Linked DNA regions of Homo sapiens: region 1 is linked to region 2. Evidence: fine-mapped expression QTL. A gene starts in region 2. The other region holds a variant in brackets. All regions are shown on one strand. Distances are from middle to middle. Region 1 has its middle 10 kb from the start of RNF7. Region 2 holds the start of GRK7 (G protein-coupled receptor kinase 7).

Region 1 (12,305 bases), 35 kb after region 2:
CTTCTTCCCTGCCTTTCCTCCCCAGTCTAACTGCCATTCAATCTAACATGCCTGGTTAATTTTCCTACCTCCTGACACTCTCCTGCTCAAAATGTTCCAAAGCTCCACATTATCATCAGAACAAAATCTAAATGTCCTGATTGTTCATTTAAGTCCCACCACAATATGGCCCCAACCTACCTGTCAAGGCCATCCCCGGCACCCCTCTGCAGGATCCTCGTGAGACTGGTCTGCACAGTCATCCAAGTGTACCATGGATGGTCTTTTCCTCACATGTTAACATCTCTGAAATTGGATAGAACTTCCCCTACCTTCTTCAGCTGGATTGCCCTCTGTGCTTAGAAAAAATGTACTCATCTTTCTGTTCTCACTGGCCACTCTTTGCCACCACATATTCATGTCCTCCCAGGAAATCACAGCATTTACTGTGCTTCTTCTACACTTTTGGCACCAGGTCACACAGCAAGCAAAGGGCGCTGTTACAGATGTTTAACAAGCTCATCATAATTTATTGAACAATTTTAAGTTTTTAAAAATTGACAGCTCACAAATGATAAAAACAGTGAAACAGGAATACAATAAAAACCCAAGTACCATTAATAGACTCTCCAGAAATTCCTGTATATGCACAAGCAGACACACAATGCATCAATTTAAAATTTTTTTAAATTGTGGTAAAATTTGCGTAACACTTACCATCTTAACCATTTTAAGTGTACAGTTCAGGAGTGTTTAGTATGTTCACAGTGTTGTGCAAACAATCTCCAGAACTTTTTCATCTTGCAAAACTGAAACTCTGTACCTATTAAACAATAACTCCCTCCTCACACGTACTCCCAACCACCATTCTACTTTCTGTCTCTGATTTTGACTACTGTAAGTATCTAAGTGGAGGCATGCAGTATTTGTCTTTTTGTGACTGACTTATTCACTTAGCATAATATCCTTAAAGGTTTATCCATGTCGTAGCATGTGTCAGAATTTCCTTCGTTTTTAAGGCCGAGTAATATTCCATTTTATGTATATATCACATTTAATTTATCCAGTCATCTCTCCATGGACATTTGGGTTACTTCCACCTTTGATTTATTGTAAATGATGCTGCTTTGAACATGGTGTTCAAATATCTCTTAATGACGCTACATTCAATTCTTTTAGATGTATACACACAAGTGAAATTGCTGGATTATACTATGTCAATTCATTTTTGTATGAATTTTTCACATATACTATTCTCTCACCTGTTTTTAAAAATGGTGTTACTTGGATACTTTTCCATATAAGCACTTATGTATCCACATTATTCTTTCAATGACTGCATAGTATTCTACCACACACATTTACTGTGATTTATTCCCCTGAAACTCTTTGAGAAAAATTTAGTTATTTCCCACGTAAAATAAAGAGTGCTGCAGTGAACATCCTCATACATATTTCCTTGCACACATGTGACAGTAAACAAATTTCTAAAAGTAGAATGGCCGAGTCAAAAGCTATGTATTTTTCATTTTAATAAACACTGCCAAAAGACCCGCTAAAGGGGTATTCTGATTTTACACTCCTACCCAGTGGATACGTGTGGCAAATTTCAAAAAAGGTCTTTTTGACTTTTATTTTCATTTTTTTTTTTTTTTTTGACGGAGTCTCACTCTTTTGCCAGGCTGGAGTGCAGTGGCATGATCTCAGCTCACTGCAACTTCCAACTCCCTGGTTCAAGCTGTTCTCCTGCCTCAGCCTCCTGAGTAGCTGAGATTACAGGCATGGGCCACCACGACCAGCTAGTTTTTGTATTTTTAGTAGAGATGGGGTTTCACCATGTTGGCCAAGATGGTCTCGATCTCCTGACCTCGTGATCGGCCCACCTCGGCCTCCCAAAGTGCTGGGATTACAGGCGTGAGCCACGGTGCCCACCCAGTCTATTTTCATTTCTTTTAAGCAGGAACAGTTCTCAGGAGCTCTCACATATTGGATACATCAGTTCTGGTAAATTTGTTACATTGATCTTGTTACTCTATGGCCTTTCTTATCCTGCTTAATGACACATATTTTTCCAAGTCATATACTTTATTGTTGTTCACTTTTAATGCAAGAAAATCTTGTCTTTTTTTTTTTTTTTTTTGGAGACGGAGTTTTGCTATAGTCACCCAGGCTGGAGTGCAATGGCGTGATCTCAGCTCACTGCAACTTCCGCCTCCCGGGTTCAAGTGATTCTCCTGCCTAAGCCTCCCGAGTAGCTGGTATTACAGGCATGTGCCACCACGCCTGGCTAATTTTTGTATTATTAGTAGGGACAGGGATTCACCATGTTGGCCAGGATGGTGTTGAACTCTTGACCTCAGGTGATCCACCCGCCTCGGCCTCCCAAAATGCTGGGATTACAGGCGTGAGCCACCGTGCCTGGCCGAAGATCTTGTCTTCTTAGCTAGATCCTAAGACCCTGGAGAGTGGAGCTAATTTACTATACCATTCTTACCCTACAGTTAGTTTGATTCCAGAAACTTGCTAGCACTTGTTAAATTTGTAGATAGAATGAATGAAGTTTTCGTTTTTTATTTTTACTTCAAAGTGAAGAGGTCTTCAGTCTTCTTTTTTTCATTTCTTTCCTATGTTTCTTGTGTGGTTGTCATAGATGAAATAACTGGCACCACTCAATTCTAACATCCACAATAACAGCAGCAATAATAAGAGCCACTCATATTTATTTTTGAGTGTATAATATGAACAAGGCATTGTTCTCATTGTTCTAAAATGCTTGACATGTGTGGTCTCATTCAATGCTCACCAATTGAGATAGGCGCTACTCTTTTTTTTTTTTTTTTTGAGATAGGGTCTCACTTCCTCACCCAGACTGGAGTGCAGTGGTGCAATTATAGCTCACTGAAGTGTTATCCTCCTGGGCTTAAGCAATCCTCCTGCCTCAGCCTCTCAAATAGCGAGGCCTACGGGCACATGCCACCACAGCTGGCTAATTTTTAAATTTTTTGTAGAGATAGGGGGTCTCACTATGTTGCTCAGGCTGGTCTTGAAGTCCTGGCTTCAAGCGATCCTTTTGTCTCAGCCTCCCAAATTGCTGGGATTACAGGCATGAGCCATTGCACCCAGCCCTGCTACTCTTAACTATGTCTTACATAAGAGGAAACTGAGGAGCATGAGGTGAACTGACTTGCCCAGGCTCAGTACCTGGAAAGCGGCAGTTCCTCCATAGAGACTTCTGGTTCATCTAACTGCCTAGGCCATGCTCTTCATCCTGCACCATAATTGTTGTGGCATATAAAACTCAACTCACCCACTGTCATCTGTATATCAATCAACCACACCTCTTCCATTTCTCACGGGGCTATGTGGCATCTTCAGGGTGGGGCAGAGGAATTAAAAGTTTCCTCATTTGGCTGGGAGCTGTGGCTCACGCCTGTAATCCCAGCACTTTGGGAGGCCAAGGCAGGTGGATCACCTGAGGTCAGGAGTTCGACACCAGCCTGGCCAACATGGTGAAACCCTGTCTCTACTAATAATACAAAAAATCAGCTGGGCATGGTGGTGCGCGCCTATAATCCCAGCTACTCAGAAGGCTGAGGCAGGAGAATCACTTGAACCTAGGAGGCAGAGGTTGCAGTGAGCCAAGACTGCGCCACTGCACTCCAGCCTGGGCAACAGAGCAAGACCCTGTCTTAAAAAAAAAAAAGTTTCCTCATTTAGGGAGGATCCTCATTTTTAGGGATGGTGTCTTTTAGGAAGTGGTTATTATTTCCAAGCATTCTTATTGTTCCCAACTATAGGTATATTTATGAAAGAGGATTCTTTCTTTTTTAGATAAAAGTATGATTTCCTTCAACTTATAAATTTCATATGCAGGAGAGATGAAGCCTCAGAGAATTGCGTCTTTTTTTACTAAGGCCTACTTGTGAAACCCACATTTTAGAAAATGACAAGTGTGATGGGATCATCACAAGACAGGATTATCACATGACTTTAAACTTTCATACAATAATCATCAAATTTGAGAACTTCAAAGGGACTTGGTTACAGTGAAAAATATTACTATAGAATAAGCAATATCTATCCGGGTGTATCTGCTTGGCCATGGAAATAGATGACATCCATATGGAAATATAGCACCTATATTCAGTTTTTAGTCTGTGAAATAATAAACAGGCAATCATAAATTATAGAAAAAAGGGAGTTCAACTTCTTACAGTAGAGAATAAACATATATAAAGCATTACCTCCTAAGAGGTAGCACAGCCTTCATAAAGAGTTTAGGTAAATTTAAAAGTAAATTTATCTTTTCAGATCCACAATAGGCTAGCAGCAACTAGGATTTGGGTAGGGGTGGGAATTAAAGAGGGGAGGCCCAGTCTGTGCCAATCTTTGAGGAAACTGTTGTTCTCTTACTTACTTGTCTCTTGGTTCAATCATCATCCATCAGATTGGAATGATGGTTTAGGGGAGCGTGACCTAGAACCTAAATTCTCATATAATCAAATGCAAAACCTGCAGCTGATGGTGCTGTCTGCCCCAAGGGCCCAGGCTCCACACAGCACTCCCTGGTGGCTGCTCCTCACTGACACAGACGTCCAAGAACTTACCTTTTTCTTCTTTTTATGCATAGTGTTAGACTTCTTGCTATTTTTCCAAATTGATCTGAAGGTATCTGAAGAGATCTGGGGAGTGACTGTAATTTTTAAGACCGGTAGTTTACCTGCACGGGGAAAGAACATAATCATAAATAGGTAGGATATCTCACAACTACATTAGAGGGAGTGGGTCTTAGGCTTCTGAGAGAGGCATTCTCCCACATTCTTATTAGCCGAGTGACTTTCCTCTGACCTCATACCTCTTCCTTATACCTTCTTGGTGCGAGTGATGCTGACAATTAATTTACCTCTGAAGTAACTTCTTACACTTGTCCTGTCTTTCCCATTCTCACTGTCATGTCTTTTACCTGGATGATAGAGTAGCCTCCTAACCAGTTTTCCTAATCCCAAACTTCCCCAACCCCAAGCCCATCCTGGACCCTGCTTCCAGATTAATCATCTGAAAGCAACATTCTGATCTTCTCATTACCAGCTCTAATACCATTACTGGCCCTCTTTCTTTAGTAGACATCTCTTGTTTCCGCCTACCCAGCTTCCATTTCAGCTTCTTTCTGCAACAGCACTTTGAGTTTGTTTTAGGGTTCCACTCCCCTGCCCTCCAGGGTATGCACGTAGCCCAGGGATGTCTAGTGTATTTCATCTCCCTGGCACAGTGATTGGTTAACAGGTGTGCATGTGACTCATGGTCCTCCAGTGAAAGTCCAAAGAAGAGCTCCTTCTTGAGATTATTAACCAGGCAGAATGTAACCCTCTGGCTAATGCTGCTCAACTTGCCCCCATGTGGGAAAGAGCCTGCCTGAGAGTAAAGTCAACACAGCAGCAGAACTCCCAGGAGATGGAGGTGGGCGGCGTTATGTGAACCCTTGATTTCAGCTGGACTTTAAGCTAGAACCACCCTGGACTTACAGGAGTCAACAGATTTGCTTTTGTACTTAAGTCAGTTTGAATCGGTTTTGTATCACTTGAAACCCAGAGTTCTCACTGATTTTCCTATAAAATAAAGACTCAAATCCCTAATGTGTTATTACAGAGCCTGTGTCAACCCCTCCTCCATATTCTTTCCCATGGAACTCTCCCTTCTCCTCCTTCCTGCTTCTCATTTAGCCATACAGCTAGGTCCTGCTTATAAGGCCGGAGGTGCCTAACACTACAGTTTCTGGAGGCCAGGCTTCTCCAGGGAGAGGCCAAAAGCAGAAGGGAAAACAAGAAATACAGTTGAGAGGAAAAACAAGAACTTTAGAAAATAGTACTGAATTTCAGCTCCAGAGGGTAAATTGAGGTTGAAGTATGAAAATGCTTGTACAAGTATGAGGTCAAATCAGGCTGGGCACAGGAAAGAGCAGTGGAAGGCAAGGTGGATGAATATGGAAAGGAACCTGGAGGTGTAAGACAATGTGGTTTAGAATGTCACAACTTGAGGCCGGGCGCAGTAATCCCAGCACTTTGGGAGGCCGAGGTGGGCGGATCACCTGTGGTTGGGAGTTTGAGACCAGCCTCACCAATGTGGAGAAACCCCGTCTCTACTAAAAATACAAAATTAGCCAGGCATGGTGGTGCATGCCTGTGATCCCAGCTATTTGGGAGGCAGGAGAATTGCTTGAACCCAGGAGGCGGAGGTTGCAGTGAGCCAAGATCACACCATTGCACTCCAGCTTGGGCAACAAGAACGAAACTGTCTCAAAAAAAAAAAAAAAAAAAAAAAAGAATGAGCCAGAAATCAGATACTAGCACTTCCTCCTTGTCCTTTCTTCTCCTTCTTCTGGTCTGGAATGGAGAGGAGAGGTCACAGGTGTGGGAGCCACCTTGCAGCCATGAGG[A/T]TAAGGGCCACTTGCTGAGGTGATGGTGGAGAAGGAGAGAAGGAATCTGGGACGTTGATGATGTGGTGCAGTAGCTGTACCTGCCCAGTCGTCTTCCACCTGTGTAGGGCACTGTAGCTGGTTCTGTTACCTGTAGCCAAACACTATCTCTATATGATGCAGTATTTAATCGGAAACAGGTATAAATCCTGGCCAAGGAGAAAAACAAAGCTCGGAGTTAGAAATATAGAGGACAGGTCCAAAGCAGGGGAAGGCAAAGTCTTCAGTAGGAAAACAAAGGTCAAAGTCTTGACCACTGAGGCAAGGAGGGAGTGTGGGATGCACGGCGCAGGCTGTGAGGTGTTTCATATGCTACAGACCATTTGAAATGGGGCCAGGAGTGTGGAATGGAGACCAGCTGAGACCTCAGAGGATTCATGTGTCGCCTAAGCTCACAAAAGACTGTTATGTTTCCTGGATGCCACACTTTCGGTCATCCTTTCTACTTATTTTCCACTTATAAAATTCTACTCATTCTTCAATGAAGCATATCCCAAGTGTTTGAGACTTCCTCTTCTTTTGAGGAAACTAAGATGATTTAAGCCAGCATTAGGTATTGACCTGGAGTTATATAACAACAAATTACATGGTGAGAAAGCTAGGCACTTTTCAATTCTCTCTTTAAAAATATTTTTGGCTGGGTGCAGTGGCTAGTGGCTTATGCCTGCAATCCTAGCACTTTGGGTTTCAGGAGTTCAAGACCAGCCTGGGAAAAATGGCAAGACCTAACCTCTACAAAAAATTTAAAATTAGCCAGGCATGGTGGCACATGCCTGTAGTCCTAACTACTTGGGAGGCTGAGGTAGGACGATCACTTGAGCCCAGAAGTTCAAGGATACAGTGAGCTAAGATCATGCCACTGGACTCCAGCCTGGGCAACAGACCAATTTATTTTCTTTCTTTTCTTTTCTTTTCTTCTTTTCTTTTCTTTCTTTTTTTTCTTTCTTTCTTCTTCTTTCCTTCCTTCCCTCCTTCCTTCCTTCCCTCCCTCCTTCCTTTCTTTCTTTCTCTCTCTCATTCTCTCTTCTCTTTCCTTCCTTCCTTCTTTCCCCCTCCCCCTCCCCTCCCCTCCCCCTCCCTCTCTTCTTCTTCTTCTTCTTCTTCTTCCTCTTCCTCTTGTTCTTCTTCTTGTAGAGATGGGGTCTCCCTAGGTTGCCCAGGCTGGTATCGAACTCCTGGGCTCAAGTGATCCTCCCACCTTGGCCTCCCAAAGTGCTGGGATTACAGGTGTAGGCCACTGCACGTGGCCCCAAGTTCTCTTCTGCAGAGGCAGCCACTTTCAACTTATTCAGCAGTTTTTCATGATATTTACTGCCTGATTTTAAACAAAGTGCTTATTATATTATTTCTTGATATTTCCATTTAAAATTTTACATATTGACTTTTGTAACTTCCTCTCACCAAGCCTCCCAATAAAGATATATCACAATTTTTAGTTAAATCAACACTTGGTGTATTCATTGGTATATTTTTGTACATATTTCATTGTATATCTGTCTTTTGTCTAAGTTAATAATTGCCTGTTTTGTCATTTGCAGAGTTTTCTGTGTACTTATTCTAAATATTTTCCCACAGGTTTCTGTCATTTCAAATATACTTATCAATATTTCTTTCAAAACACCTAAGTATCTATTTTTTATTTTTGTATTTTTAGTAGAGATGCGGGTTTCATCATGTTGGCCAGGCTGGTCTTGAACTCCTGACCTCAGTTGACAAAATACTTAAGTATTTCACATGCTCTATAAGTTCAGTTTTTAACCAAGTCTTTCTCCTTTACAAAGTCTTCTACTTTTCTGCTCCAATTTGGATTTACCTCAACCATCATCTGGGACTCCCTTTTTTACTGTCCTATATTGGGCCTTCCGATTTCTGAACTTGGCGTTCTTTGTTTTTGTGGTTTATTTTATTTTATTTTTATTTATTTATTTTTTTGAGACAGTCTCATTCTATTGCCCAGGCTGGAGTGCAGTGGTGCGATCTCGGCCCATTGCAACCTCCGCCTCCTCGGTTCAAGTGATTCTCCTGCCTCAGCCTCCTGAGTAGCTGGGCTTACAGGTGTTTACCACCATGCCTGGCTAATTTTGTATTTTTAATAGAGAGGGGGGTTTCGCCAAGTTGGCCAGGCTGGTCTCGAACTCCTGACCTCAAGTGATCTGCCTGCCTCAGCCTCCCAAAGTGCAGGGATTACAGGCATGAGCCACTGCGCCTGGCTTGTCTTCCTGGTTTATTTTCTCATTTTGCTCAAGCATGTTCTTTGGAAGTTTCTTAAGAATAGACTCAGAGGAGGCAAATGTTTGGAATGTTTGCATGTTGAAAACATCTTTATTTTGGCCTCATACATGGTTAGAAGTTGGGAAGGTATAGACTTCTCATAGAATTGTCACAGTAGCACTTTGTTGCCCCTAGCTTCTAGTTACGAAGTCTGATGTCATTCTAATTCCCAGTCCTTTGGATGCAAATTGTTTTCTTTTAGTTAGCTGTTAGGATCCCCTTTTTATTCCTAGTGCTCTGAATGCCATCATGATATACTTTTTGTATTTCCCTGTGCTGGACACCCAATGGGCTCTTTCAACGTGCAGATTTATGTTCCTTGGCTCTGGGAAAGTTCTTTATTTATTCCTTTGATAATTCCCTGTCTTCACTTTTCTCTGCTTTCTCTTTCTGAAAACTCTTAGTTAGACACTGATGTTCGTAGGTTGATCCTCTGTCTCTTATACTTTCTCACCAATTTTTCATCTCCTTATCTTTTGTTTCACTTCTGAAGCTTTCTTTCTTTTTTGGGGGGTGGGGTGGGGGCTGAGTACAGGTGACTTTGTTGATGGTACACAACAAAGCAGAGTTCCCCAGACCTTCCCTCTTCAGGGGGGATTCTCAGTGTGGTGGGGGACTGAGTGCAGCAGGGACTCCCCAGCAGCTGAGGGCCTCTCTCATCCTCTTTGCTCTGACTGGTGGTTCAGGGGTCTTACTCCTTGGAGGTTATGTGGAACTTGGCCTTGTTCATACTGGAACATGCTCATACTAGAACATGTAGGCCATGTAGTTGTGGTCAATGAAGGGGTCATTGATGGTGACAACATCCACTTTGCCAGAGTTAAAAGCAGCCCTGGTGACCAAGGCCCACTGTGGATACATCTGTTTATTCTGGCCTTCACCTTCACCCTGGTGTCTGAGGGGCGCAGCTGGTGCTGCATGAGAAAATGCAGCTGTCTCTCAAACTGGAGGAGCAGAGGGCTGACTCTCTTGATTTTATCTGTCTACCTTTTTTTCCCCCCAGAATATTTTATTTTGTCTATCTTTTTTACTGTCCAAAAACTTTTTCTTATTTTCTAATTGTTCTTTTTTCATAGTACCCCATTCCCTTTTTATGGATGCCTTATCCTTTCTTCCATTCAGAATGCTATAATGTTACAGCTTTTTTTTGGTTTTTCTTTAGTTTTCTGCATTGTTTCTATATCTTCAGGGTTCCTTCATTCCCTCTGTTTCAGAGTTGGTCTCTCGTGTTGGAGACTTGCCTCAAGTGTCTGGAGGTTCTCAGGTATCTTGTTCACAATGAAGCATAAGACATACAAAGGCTGATGGGCAGCTGTCATGTATGTTCAGGGCTTGCTGACCTGCTAGGCTTCTTTGAATGGTGAGGAGATGGCCAGCTGTCAGCATCTAGAATTTCTTTTTCTAGGGCTATTCAATTTCTCAAGTAATACCCCAATCTTCTACATGGCTGTCAGCCTTCTGGAAGCAGGGCAGACAAGCCTAGGGTGGTAGTAAGGACTGAGTTTCAACTGCTCAATATGTACAACTTTCCTTAATTCTCATCTTTGTAGCTTCTCCCCAACCCACATTTTCCACCTTGCTGGGTGTTCTGGGTCTGCTGAAAGGCTCTGTGTAGTTTTCCCAGAGAAAACTCCCTAACTAGAATCCTTGTTCTGCCCTTGCCTCCCCTATAGTCTATTTTTAACATAGAGCTGAAGCAATCCTGTTAAAATGTGGGTTACATCAGGTTACTTCTAGGTTTATCATTCTCAAAAGCCTTTCCTTGTCAACAGTTACACCCAAAAGTCCTCACAAGGGTCTAGAAGGCTTTCTGCTCTGCATACTTGCATCTCAAATTGTTTGTCCTCTGACTCTCCCATTCTAGCTCACTCCATTCAGCCATGCTGGCTGCTTTACTGAACACACCAGGAGGCTCCTACCTTAAGGCCTTGGCACTTGCTGTTCCTTCTAGCCAGAATGCTCATCTCTCAGATATTCACATGGCCTGCTCCATCACTACTTTAGGTCTTTACTTAAGTGTCCCTTCTCAGCAAAGCCTTCCCTAGCTACCCTAAGATGGCAACCCCCATGCCCTGACACACACTTTACCCCCTCATTTGCTTTATTTTTCCTCTAAGTATGATCCCCATCAGATATACAATCATATATATGCCTCATGAAGGCAGGAATTCATGACTCTCCTCCTACCAGGCCCAGAACAGGGCCTGGTACATGATAGGCATTTAACAAATATATATTGAAAGAAATAAGAATGAATAAATGAAATGTTCCTTCAGTACTCTGTTTTCTTATTAGTGAAAAAGCAGTAAGACAGGATAACAGCTTATTGTTTCACTAGCTATTTTTTTTTTAATGAAATGAGCTTGCTAATGTTTCTGAGGAAGATTTCACTGGGCCTCGTCCATCATTAAAGGCAGGTCATTAAGATCTCCTTGATAGCCAAGTAAGTGACCTCAGGCTGTTAATTTGGATTTCATGAACGAATTAGAATTAGAATTAGAAATTAGCTTGTTAACTTGCAAATGTTAAGAAACAATCAATTGAAGAACATTAGCTCTATAATCAGTAATACTATTAATTGCTTTTAATGTTTAAAATGATGCCATTAGGGCTGAATGGGAAGAGATTTTTCCTATAAAACCCAACCAGTTAACCCTGTTTTGAGGAATCTTCTTGGTGTTCAAACTAACAATCCAATTGAAGTATTCCATCAGAAACACCATAATTATTTCAGCTCAAGAGAGGGATGCATTAAGGCTACTCATGATACATATTACTATATTTGAAAAAAAGATTTCTTGAACTATAAATTACTTTTTAATGCCTTCTAAATGCGTATTTGTATTTTCAGGTGGATATTTCATAATTATCTTCTCATTTATGCAAATTAAAACATTTACTAAGCAAAGCATGATGTTTTCCAGCTCCAAATACATACTCAGAGATAATCACTTTCCATCAAGTCATCTGAGACTGATTGTCATTAGCATTCACTATAGTCATGGTCATGAGACTGCCTGCAGACTTGTAACATCTTCTCCCTCAATGTACAATGAAAAAGTTACTACGGTGCCAGGAAAAACAAATGAAAGCATTAACCTGCCTTCAGTTTATCAAGCTTAAAGCTATATTTGAACTAAATTTAACAGAGTAATTCTGCTGAAATTGAATTCAACTCTAATGGAATAGAAAGTAGATATTCTGTTTCTCTAAAATAAAGGGATAACTTAAACATCATGGAATCACTTGATTGGCTGTTAAAAATGTAGGAGTTTTAGTTTTAAAAATGTCAATACAATATACAGTAATATCATTATAATTCTTCTATCTAAAACTCTAGAGCATTAAAAGAAAAATGCAATCTATGATTATGCTATGCCTCTAAGACCATTCTGAGGAAATGGTAGAGACAGATGCTTGGACTGCTTAATTCTCTCCGCTTGACCTGCCCAGTAACATACCAAGAGTTCTTTCTACTTTCCTTAAGGTTGAATTTGCATTTTCAAATCTGTTTATGAAGTCTTCCATTGAGCTTCATTTAAAATGACATTTCTTCACCTCCTCTGCATTAGCAGGGCAAGCA
Region 2 (12,305 bases):
GAGATGTCCCAGTGGTGATGTTAGGTGGGCAGTGGGATAGAAGGGTCTGGAGTTCAGAGGAGAGGTCTGGAGGGAAAGGCATGTTTGGGAGTCATAGGGGAGTAGGTGATAATTGATGTAGGCATTGAAGAACCCACCTGGGGAGAGAGAAGGGAGTGAGACTGGAAGATGGACAAGGACTGAGCCTTGAGGTCATTCAACATTTATCATTCAGAGGATGAGCCTGTAAGGGAGGCTGAGAAGGAATGAGAAGGGAAGCTGGAGAGAAGCAGGAAAGTGTGGTGCCGCAAAAGCCAAGTAGAGAGTGGCCAACTGCATCGAATGCTGCTGAGAGGCTGAGATGATGAGGAGAAAGAAAGGAGGATGGATGGAAACCACTGGCTCCTGGAGTAGGACTCTCAGCCTGACTGGAGAGGATTGAGGAGGGAAGGAAGGTGGAGAAGTGAAGGTTGCAGCCACAGAACTTTGGCCATGAAAAGGGAGAGACATATGATGGGGAGCTGGAGGGGTTGCGAGAGATGGGAGAAAAAATTAATGGTAGTGTCTTGTGCTTGTTAAAAGCTAACAAGGACCAGGGGCGGTGGCTCATGCCTGTAATCCTAGCATTTTGGGAGGCCAAGGCGGGTGGATCACCTGAGGTCAGGAGTTCGAGACCAGCCCGGCCAACATGGTGAAACCCCATCTCTACTAAAAATACAAAAAAATTAGCCAGGTGTGGTGGTGGGTGCCTGTAATCCCAGCTACCTGGGAGGCTGAGGCTGGAGAATCACTGGAACCCGGGAGGCGGAGGCTGAGGCGGAGTCTGCAGTGAGCCAAGATTGCACCACTGCACTCCTGGGGAAGAGAGCGAGACTCCGTCTCAAAAAAAAAAAAAAAAGGCTGACAGGAAGGATCCAGGTTAGAGGGCGAGGTTAAAATATAAGGGGAAGGATTGGCCTTAGGACGAAGGGCAGCTCTCCAGACAGCACAGGAGTGTGGGTCTGTTGCAAGGGGTCTATGTGTGGTGGCCCCATTTACCATGATAACCGTGACACAGTGTGGTTAGAGGCCGCTCCACAGGTAGGCACCAAATCCAAGGGGAACATAGAGGAATGAACAATTCATTTTCTAACTTTCAGGAAATGTCAGTTGAAAACCACTCACTTTCCTATTAACTCCAATTATCCAATAATCACAGAGTTAAATAGAATGCATGTTATCATAGTGTGTACCTAGTCTAAGCTCTTCCTGTACATGAAGAAAACAGACCAGAAAAAACTTAAATGCTGGGTTTAGACTAGGAACTTAGGGTCTCATAGTCCATTCCAGGGTACTTTTCACTTAGCATTGTCCCTGTGGCATAGAGAAGCTTGGGGGTAAAAGAATCTAGTGTGACACACAAAGGAGAAAGCTGAGATATTTACAAATGATTCTTGTCCTCTGTTTCCCTTTAAAATAGCAGACTTTTCTGCTGGGCATGGTGGCTCACGCCTGTAATCCCAGTACTTTGGGAGGCCAAGGTGGATGGATCGCCTGAGGTCAGGAGTTTGAGACTAGTCTGGGCAACACAGCAAAACCCCGTCTCTACTAAAAATACAAAAAAAATCTGGGCATGGTGGCACATGCCTATAGTCCCAGCTAATCAGGAGGCTGAGGTAGGAGGATTGGTTGAGCTGGGGGCTGGAGGCTGGAGTGAGCTGAGATCACGCTACTGCACTCCAGCCTGGGTGACAGTGCGAAGGAGACCCTGTCTCAAAAAAAAAAAACAAAAAACAAAACACAAAACCAACAGATTTTTAGTTATAAGGCTTGCATGGTATCATAGTATAAAACCAAGCATTCAGTTCAGCTCTGTTCCAATTGATAATGAAACAATCATTGTGTATCTGAAAGAGAAATCTTTTTATCAACAGGAAGCCTGACCTTCCTTACATGTCATACCAAGAATAGATGGTGAAAATTTTTGCTTTTGAGGCTACTTAAGATAGGAGAAGTTGCACATGCTTTCATAGGGGTGAAAGAATCTGTATGCTTGCTTAAAACTCCTCATTTCTATAATAAATTAAGTCCATAAATATTGAATCTTAGGCTATAATCTGGCATAACATAAACATCTTCCTCTCTAAACAAGACTCTAATTGTTTTAATAATGACTGCATTCTCATAACAGAGGATATTCTTCTTAAACAAGGAGTCACAGTAGCTAAGAGAGAAAATGAAGTAATTGGTATATCTGAAGGAAATAGAAAATACTTCCTGATAGAGATTCCATTTGGAAATGAATTATGGCAGATATGCAAATGAACTGTATGTGTTCACACAATAAGATTTTAAAAATCTGCTAAGCAACTCTCTGGAAAGTACGAGATTTTATTAGAAGACATAGATTATTAGAGAAGACCAAACAATACAATGTTAGCAAACAAAAAGCAAAAGAAATTCCACAAAACATAGATTTGATATGTGGCGAATATGTGGGAATTATTTGAAAAAAAGTGTTACGGTTATAATAATGAATGAAACAAGGGCATAAAAGTCAAAGTTATTTTTAGTAGGACATAAAAGACTTTGTATTCTGGAATGAAGAAGTAGTAAGTATTTATTAGAAATTTCGGTGAGTCTGCTTTAAAGACTTTTTTTTTTCACATTTGGTGGCGAATAAAAGTAATCGAGAGTGGAGAGAATAAGGAAGTTATAAGAAAAAACTGGCTAGGTGCGTTGGCTCACGCCTGTAATCCCAACACTTTGGGAGGCCGAGGCGGGTGGATCACGAGGTCAGGAGATCGAGACCATCCTGGCTAACACGGTGAAACCCTATCTCTACTAAAAATACAAAAAACTAGCTGGGCGTGGTGGCGGGTGCCTGTAGTCCCAGCTACTCGGGAGGCTGAGGCAGGAGAATGGCGTGAACCCGTGAGGCAGAGCTTGCTGTGAGCTGAGATCGCGCCACTGCACTCCAGCCTGGACGACAGAGTGAGACTCCATCTCAAAAAAAAAAAGAAAAAATTAAGTTAAGCGTGTAAATGTTAAATGTCCACTGGTGGGGTAGAGGGAGTTATGTTAAAGAATACTTTAAAATATTTAAACACCCCAACTTTTATAAACAATAGTAACATTAGAGTCATTTGCAACTGAGATGAAAGCCTTATTTCCATATACAGTGTGGGCCTGACCCTTGATATACGCTATGGTAAAGAAAATGGAACACCAGATTCAGCTGGTGACACTTAAACACCTCTTACCTGATAGCACATTGCAAGTGAAGACTTTGATGTATAAAAGAGAATTCGTAAGTAGTACTGAGTACTAAGTCATATTAACTAAAATCCACACAAAGCTCTGGCCTATGTTTCATTTGTCTATTCATTCTATGCACTTATCCCACAAATATACAGATTTGCTTTGATTGGGCAGCTCTTTGCTGGTCTCACCTGGACTCACTCTTATGGTTGCATTCAGCTGGGGGATCGGTGGGTGGCTGAGCTCAGCTGGGAGAGCTGGGGTGGTTGAGCCTCTCTGCAGTGTTTCCTCCTGGGCTTCCTCAAAGCATGATGGCCTCAGAGCAGTTTTCCAAAAGGGTGAAGGCAGAAGCTGCAAGATCTCTTCAGTTCCAGGCTCTGGAGCTGATACACCGTTAACTTCTGCCACATTCTACTGGTCACAAGCCTAGCCCAGGTTGATAGGAGTAGCTGTAAAATACTGTGGCCATGTTTTCCAACCCACCACAGATGGTGGTAAGTGCTGTGAAGAAAAATCAAGCAGGGAAGGAGAAGGGAAGTGCTGAGATACACCAGGGAGAAGGCTTCACTTTTAAATAGGGTGGTCAGGCAAGACTGAATTGAGAAAATGATGAGAGTCAAGACCTCCTGAAGGTAAGGGCGTGAGCCATGTGACTGCCTGAGGGTAGAGCACTTCAGGGAGAAGGAACAGCTGGCTCAAATCCTGGTGAGCTTGAGAAACAGCAAGAAAGTCAGTGTGGGTGGCCCAGAGTGAGGGGCCCGCAGCAGGAAATGTCCTCAGAGAGGAAACAGAGCAGACCAGTGAGGCAGTACTGATCACTGCAAGAACTTAGGTTTTCCTTCTGAGTGAGATGGAAAGCCACTGGAAGTTTTCAACAATCAGATGGACATTTTAACAGGATCACAGACAGAAGGGGCAAGGGTTAAAACAGAAAAACCAGTCTGGAGGCTGCTGCAGTAACCCTGGTGAGAAATCAGGGGAGGGGGAAGATAGTTTGCTTATGGATGGATTGTGGGTGTGACAGAAAAGGAGCAAGGGTGATTCCAAGGTTTTGGGCCTGAGTAACTGGAAGGATGAATTTCTGGTAAACAGGGTGGGAAATCCTCTGGAGGAGCAGGGTGTGGGGAAGATCAAGAGCTCAGTCTTGTACCTGTTAAATTTGACCTGCCAGGGAGACAGCCAAACTGAGGTCTTGAGTAGTCTACAAGATCTATGGGTCTGGAACCCACAGGAGAGGGCTGGGCTGGAGATACTCACTGGGAGTCACCCCAGATATAAATGGCCTTTAGAGCCACAGGACTGGGTGTGATCACTCTGGGGTGAGGGCAGAGAAATCTAAGGACTGAGCCCTAGAGTTTGAGGAGGTGAGGGCAGTGGGGTATTAGGAGAGACAGAATGTGGATCCTGGATATCAAGGGAAGAAAGAGTGTCAAGGAGAAAACAGTGATTACTACGGCAAATGCTGCTGAGAGGTCAGTGGGATAAGGACTGAGAATTGGTCAGTGAATTTAACAACTTGGAGGTCACGCAGATGCTTGACAAGAGCAGTTTCTATGAAGTAGTGGGATGAAAACCTTATGAGAGTCAGTTCAACAGAGAATCAATGAATTGGAGGCAGCTAGTGTAAGCTACTCTTGAGGAGTCTTGCTTAAGGGTGTGACCACTGGAGTGAGTGGCAGTCAAGGCAGGGGTGGAGAGCACATCACTGGAAGAGATGAGATCAGGGGATGGAGAGGCCAGGGTATGAGAAGCATCAGCCATGTGGGTATTGAAATCACCAAGAATTATCAAGAGTAGTGATGGAGAGCTGGGAGCTAGCAACTCAGCGAGTGATTTGTGGGGCTGCAAGAAGACACAGTGACTGCTGGAGTCCAGTCACATGAGACTCAAAGCTGGGTGTTTTTAGGGAAGGAAGGAGAGCAGCAATGAAGAGAAATGAAGACGTCTTGCATGTTGCCAGGTCCAGTTGGATGAGGGGAGCAGAAGTGTTGCAGAAGAAACAGTGTCCTTGGGGGAGAACCAGGTTTTAGGGAAAACAAAATGGAGGGAATTTGTAGGGAAGGGAAGAGGACGGAGGAAATTTTGTTGGTGTAAATATTGGAGGGCACAGAGGACAAGTTTCAGAAGTCAGGAAGGGGTGGGAGTTGCAGGAATAAAAGGGAATGTAAAGAACTACTTGGAATTAGAGTTAGGAGAATGTGAGTTGAGCTGGAAAACTGGGTTTCTTGTGTTGAGGTATCTAACTAGGATAAAGGGCAGGATGAGATTGCTGGACTCAAAGCAGATGGTGGTGGACAGTGTTGGGGGCAGGGAGGGGTGCTGGCCTTGCCACGCACACTGGATCTGGATCCGGGATCCTGCAGCTTCCACTGGGCTACTGCTAAGTTGAAGGAGGTCTTAGGCACAGCACTGGGGCCCTGGTTCCTCGTCTGTGAAGGTGGAGCTGGCAGAGGGTTGGGCTGATCTGAGGCCCCCCAGACTTTGCTGGGTTAGTTAGTGGGTTTGAGAGCTAAGGGTGGAAGCTACAGCAAGAACTTTGAAAGTTGCTCCTTTCACTTTGCATTCACCTTAAGGACCTAACAGCAAGGAATGGTGAAGTTGGGAGGACTCCAGAGCTCCTATGCTTTATTAGGTGCCTTATGCCCTCACAAAACTTCAGTTCTGGGCTGTTGTTTGACCGAAACACAGCACTATGGCTTCAGGGTCATCAACGGCTATTTGAAGCATGAGGTATGGGAAGAATCCAAGCCCATATTTTTCATCCTTAAGAAGATCTGGAGGAGGAGCCAAGATGGCCGAATAGGAACAGCTCCGGTCTACAGCTCCCAGCGTGAGCGACACAGAAGACGGGTGATTTCTGCATTTCCATCTGAGGTACTGGGTTCATCTCACTAGGGAGTGCCAGACAGTGGGCGCAGGCCAGTGGGTGCGCGCACCGGGCGCGAGCCGAAGCAGGGCGAGGCATTGCCTCACCTGGGAAGCGCAAGGGGTCAGGGAGTTCCCTTTCCAAGTCAAAGAAAGGAGTGACGGACGCACCTGGAAAATCGGGTCACTCCCACCCGAATATTGCGCTTTTCAGACCGGCTTAAAGAACGGCACACCACGAGATTATATCCCTCACCTGGCTCGGAGGGTCCTACCCCACGGAATCTCCCCACGGAATCTCGCTGATTGCTAGCACAGCAGTCTGAGATCAAACTGCAAGGCGGCAGCGAGGCTGGGGGAGGGGCGCCCGCCATTGCCCAGGCTTGCTTAGGTAAACAAAGCAGCCGGGAAGCTCCAACTGGGTGGAGCCCACCACAGCTCAAGGAGGCCTGCCTGCCTCCGTAGGCTCCAGCTCTGGGGGCAGGGCACAGACAAACAAAAAGACAGCAGTAACCTCTGCAGACTTAAATGTCCCTGTCTGACAGCTTTGAAGAGAGCAGTGGTTCTCCCAGCAGGCAGCTGGAGATCTGAGAACGGGCAGACTGCCTCCTCAAGTGGGTCCCTGACCCCTGACCCCCGAGCAGCCTAACTGGGAGGCACCCCCCAGCAGGGGCACACTGACACCTCACACGGCAGGGTATTCCAACAGACCTGCAGCTGAGGGTCCTGTCTGTTAGAAGGAAAACTAACAAACAGAAAGGACATCCACACCGAAAACCCATCTGTACATCACCATCATCAAGACCAAAAGTAGATAAAACCACAAAGATGGGGATAAAACAGAACAGAAAAACTGGAAACTCTAAAACGCAGAGCGCCTCTCCTCCTCCAAAGGAACGCAGTTCCTCACCAGCAATGGAACAAAGCTGGATGGAGAATGACTTTGACGAGTTGAGAGAAGAAGGCTTCAGACAATCAAATTACTCTGAGCTACGGGAGGACATTCAAACCAAAGGCAAAGAAGTTGAAAACTTTGAAAAAAATTTAGAAGAATGTATAACTAGAATAACCAATACAGAGAAGTGCTTAAAGGAGCTGATGGAGCTGAAAACCAAGGCTCGAGAACTACGTGAAGAATGCAGAAGCCTCAGGAGCCAATGCGATCAACTGGAAGAAAGGGTATCAGCAATGGAAGATGAAATGAATGAAATGAAGCGAGAAGGGAAGGTTAGAGAAAAAAGAATAAAAAGAAATGAGCAAAGCCTCCAAGAAATATGGGACTATGTGAAAAGACCAAATCTACGTCTGATTGGTGTACCTGAAAGTGATGCGGAGAATGGAACCAAGTTGGAAAACACTCTACAGGATATTATCCAGGAGAACTTCCCCAGTCTAGCAAGGCAGGCCAACGTTCAGATTCAGGAAATACAGAGAACACCACAAAGATACTCCTCGAGAAGAGCAACTCCAAGACACATAATTGTCAGATTCACCAAAGTTGAAATGAAGGAAAAAATGTTAAGGGCAGCCAGAGAGAAAGGTCGGGTTACCCTCAAAGGGAAGCCCATCAGACTAACAGTGGATCTCTCGGCAGAAACCCTACAAGCCAGAAGAGAGTGGGGGCCAATATTCAACATTCTTAAAGAAAAGAATTTTCAACCCAGAATTTCATATCCAGCCAAACTAAGCTTCATAAGTGAAGGAGAAATAAAATACTTTACAGACAAGCAAATGCTGAGAGATTTTGTCACCACCAGGCCTGCCCTAAAAGAGCTCCTGAAGGAAGCGCTAAACATGGAAAGGAACAACCGGTACCAGCCGCTGCAAAATCATGCCAAAATGTAAAGACCATCGAGACTAGGAAGAAACTGCATCAACTAACGAGCAAAATCACCAGCTAACATCATAATGACAGGATCAAATTCACACATAACAATATTAACTTTAAATGTAAATGGACTAAATGCTCCAATTAAAAGACACAGACTGGCAAGTTGGATAAAGAGTCAAGACCCATCAGTGTGCTGTATTCAGGAAACCCATCTCACATGCAGAGACACACATAGGCTCAAAATAAAAGGATGGAGGAAGATCTACCAAGCAAATGGAAAACAAAAAAAGGCAGGGGTTGCAATCCTAGTCTCTGATAAAACAGACTTTAAACCAACAAAGATCAAAAGAGACAAAGAAGGCCATTACATAATGGTAAAGGGATCAATTCAACAAGAGGAGCTAACTATCCTAAATATATATGCACCCAATACAGGAGCACCCAGATTCATAAAGCAAGTCCTGAGTGACCTACAAAGAGACTTAGACTGCCACACATTAATAATGGGAGACTTTAACACCCCACTGTCAACATTAGACAGATCAACGAGACAGAAAGTCAACAAGGATACCCAGGAATTGAACTCAGCTCTGTACCAAGCAGACCTGATAGACATCTACAGAACTCTCCACCCCAAATCAACAGAATATACATTTTTTTCAGCACCACACCACACCTATTCCAAAATTGACCACATAGTTGGAAGTAAAGCTCTCCTCAGCAAATGTAAAAGAACAGAAATTATAACAAACTATCTCTCAGACCACAGTGCAATCAAACTAGAACTCAGGATTAAGAATCTCACTCAAAGCCGCTCAACTACATGGAAACTGAACAACCGGCTCCTGAATGACTACTGGGTACATAACGAAATGAAGGCAGAAATAAAGATGTTCTTTGAAACCAACGAGAACAAAGACACAACATACCAGAATCTCTGGGACGCATTCAAAGCAGTGTGTAGAGGGAAATTTATAGCACTAAATGCCCACAAGAGAAAGCAGGAAAGATCCAAAATTGACACCCTAACATCACAATTAAAAGAACTAGAAAAGCAAGAGCAAACACATTCAAAAGCTAGCAGAAGGCAAGAAATAACCCTTCAAAAAATCAATGAATCCAGGAGCTGGTTTTTTGAAAGGATCAACAAAATTGATAGACCGCTAGCAAGACTAATAAAGAAAAAAAGAGAGAAGAATCAAATAGACACAATAAAAAATGATAAAGGGGATATCACCACTGATCCCACAGAAATACAAACTACCATCAGAGAATACTACAAACACCTCTACGCAAATAAACTAGAAAATCTAGAAGAAATGGATACATTCCTCGACACATACACTCTCCCAAGACTAAACCAGGAAGAAGTTGAATCTCTGAATAGACCAATAACAGGAGCTGAAATTGGGGCAATAATCAATAGTTTACCAACCAAAAAGAGTCCAGGACCAGATGGATTCACAGCCGAATTCTACCAGAGGTACAAGGAGGAACTGGTACCATTCCTTCTGAAACTATTCCAATCAATAGAAAAAGAGGGAACCCTCCCTAACTCATTTTATGAGGCCAGCATCATTCTGATACCAAAGCCGGGCAGAGACACAACCAAAAAAGAGAATTTTAGACCAATATCCTTGATGAACATTGATGCAAAAATCCTCAATAAAATACTGGCAAACCAAATCCAGCAGCACATCAAAAAGCTTATCCACCATGATCAAGTGGGCTTCATCCCTGGGATGCAAGGATGGTTCAATATACGCAAATCAATAAATGTAATCCAGCATATAAACAGAGCCAAAGACAAAAACCACATGATTATCTCAATAGATGCAGAAAAAGCCTTTGACAAAATTCAACAACCCTTCATGCTAAAAACTCTCAATAAATTAGGTATTGATGGGACGTATTTCAAAATAATAAGAGCTGTCTATGACAGACCCACAGCCAATATCATACTGAATGGGCAAAAACTGGAAGCATTCCCTTTGAAAACTGGCACAAGACAGGGATGCCCTCTCTCACCGCTCCTATTCAACATAGTGTTGGAAGTTCTGGCCAGGGCAATCAGGCAGGAGAAGGAAATAAAGGGTATTCAGTTAGGAAAAGAGGAAGTCAAATTGTCCCTGTTTGCAGACGACATGATTGTTTATCTAGAAAACCCCATTGTCTCAGCCCAAAATCTCCTTAAGCTGATAAGCAACTTCAGCAAAGTCTCAGGATACAAAATCAATGTACAAAAATCACAAGCATTCTTATACACCAACAACAGACAAACAGAGAGCCAAATCATGAGTGAACTCCCATTCACAATTGCTTCAAAGAGAATAAAATACTTAGGAATCCAACTTACAAGGGATGTGAAGGACCTCTTCAAGGAGAATTACAAACCACTGCTCAAGGAAATAAAAGAGGATACAAACAAATGGAAGAACATTCCATGCTCATGGGTTGGAAGAATCAATATCGTGAAAATGGCCATACTGCCCAAGGTAATTTACAGATTCAATGCCATCCCCATCAAGCTACCAATGACTTTCTTCACAGAATTGGAAAAAACTACTTTAAAGTTCATATGGAACCAAAAAAGAGCCCGCATCGCCAAGTCAATCCTAAGCCAAAAGAACAAAGCTGGAGGCATCACACTACCTGACTTCAAACTATACTACAAGGCTACAGTAACCAAAACAGCATGGTACTGGTACCAAAACAGAGATATAGATCAATGGAACAGAACAGAGCCCTCAGAAATAACGCCGCATACCTACAACTATCTGAACTTTGACAAACCTGAGAAAAACAAGCAATGGGGAAAGGATTCCCTATTTAATAAATGGTGCTGGGAAAACTGGCTAGCCATATGTAGAAAGCTGAAACTGGATCCCTTCCTTACACCTTATACAAAAATCAATTCAAGATGGATTAAAGATTTAAACGTTAGACCTAAAACCATAAAAACCCTAGAAGAAAACCTAGGCATTACCATTCAGGACATAGGCATGGGCAAGGACTTCATGTCCAAAACACCAAAAGCAATGGCAACAAAAGCCAAAATTGACAAATGGGATCTAATTAAACTAAAGAGCTTCTGCACAGCAAAAGAAACTACTATCAGAGTGAACAGGCAACCTACAACATGGGAGAAAATTTTCGCAACCTACTCATCTGACAAAGGGCTAATATCCAGAATCTACAATGAACTCAAACAAATTTACAAGAAAAAAACAAACAACCCCATCAAAAAGTGGGCGAAGGATATGAACAGACACTTCTCAAAAGAAGACATTTATGCAGCCAAAAAACACATGAAAAAATGCTCATCATCACTGGCCATCAGAGAAATGCAAATCAAAACCACTATGAGATATCATCTCACACCAGTTAGAATGGCAATCATTAAAAAGTCAGGAAACAACAGGTGCTGGAGAGGATGTGGAGAAATAGGAACACTTTTACACTGTTGGTGGGACTGTAAACTAGTTCAACCATTGTGGAAGTCAGTGTGGCGATTCCTCAGGGATCTAGAACTAGAAATACCATTTGACCCAGCCATCCCATTACTGGGTATACACCCAAATGACTATAAATCATGCTGCTATAAAGACACATGCACACGTATGTTTATTGCGGCATTATTCACAATAGCAAAGACTTGGAACCAACCCAAATGTCCAACAATGATAGACTGGATTAAGAAAATGTGGCACATATACACCATGGAATACTATGCAGCCATAAAAAATGATGAGTTCATGTCCTTTGTAGGGACATGGATGAAATTGGAAATCATCATTCTCAGTAAACTATCGCAAGAACAAAAAACCAAACACCGCATATTCTCACTCATAGGTGGGAATTGAACAATGAGATCACATGGACACATGAAGGGGAATATCACACTCTGGGGACTGTGGTGGGGTGGGGGGAGCGGGGAGGGATAGCATTGGGAGATAGATATACCTAAGGCTACATGACGAGTTAGTGGGTGCAGCGCACCAGCATGGCACATGTATACATATGTAACTAACCTGCGCAATGTGCACATGTACCCTAAAACTTAAAGTATAATAAAAAAAAAAAAAAGAAAAAAAAAAAAAAAAAGAAGAAGATCTAAGCGTATTGTCAGAAAAGTGGGAGTTCAGAGTTCAGTGAGGAATTTCAGGCTACACTAAAATTTTCGTCTTATAATTGGGGGTAGCTCCAAGATTTTGCACATTTAAAACCCTGAAAAATATTCTAGAAGAGAGATGGAATTAATAAAACATTTTCCCTTAAAAAAATCACTTCTTCCATTACTTTTTTCTTCTGAGTTTTGAGAAACTTCTTGAAAGTGTGGCCCTTCTAATGAACTCCAAGGAGCTTTCTCAGGTTACCTCCACAGGGGACC

The links. PIP is the estimated chance that this variant, and not a neighbour inherited with it, causes the effect.
Region 1: its variant is fine-mapped to the expression of GRK7 in whole blood (TOPMed, PIP above 0.99).

What each region holds. Positions count from the first base shown.
Region 1 is chr3:141,721,685-141,733,989 of GRCh38, reverse strand. No RefSeq gene overlaps it. Among named protein-coding and RNA genes, the nearest start is that of RNF7, 10 kb to the left of the region's middle. The variant A/T (reference allele first, on the strand shown) is at 6,413.
Region 2 is chr3:141,756,844-141,769,148 of GRCh38, reverse strand. It overlaps GRK7 (G protein-coupled receptor kinase 7), which reads right to left and starts at 5,741. Exons shown (of 6, transcript NM_139209.3): 1 at 3,411-5,741. RefSeq lists a silencer at 6,322-6,496.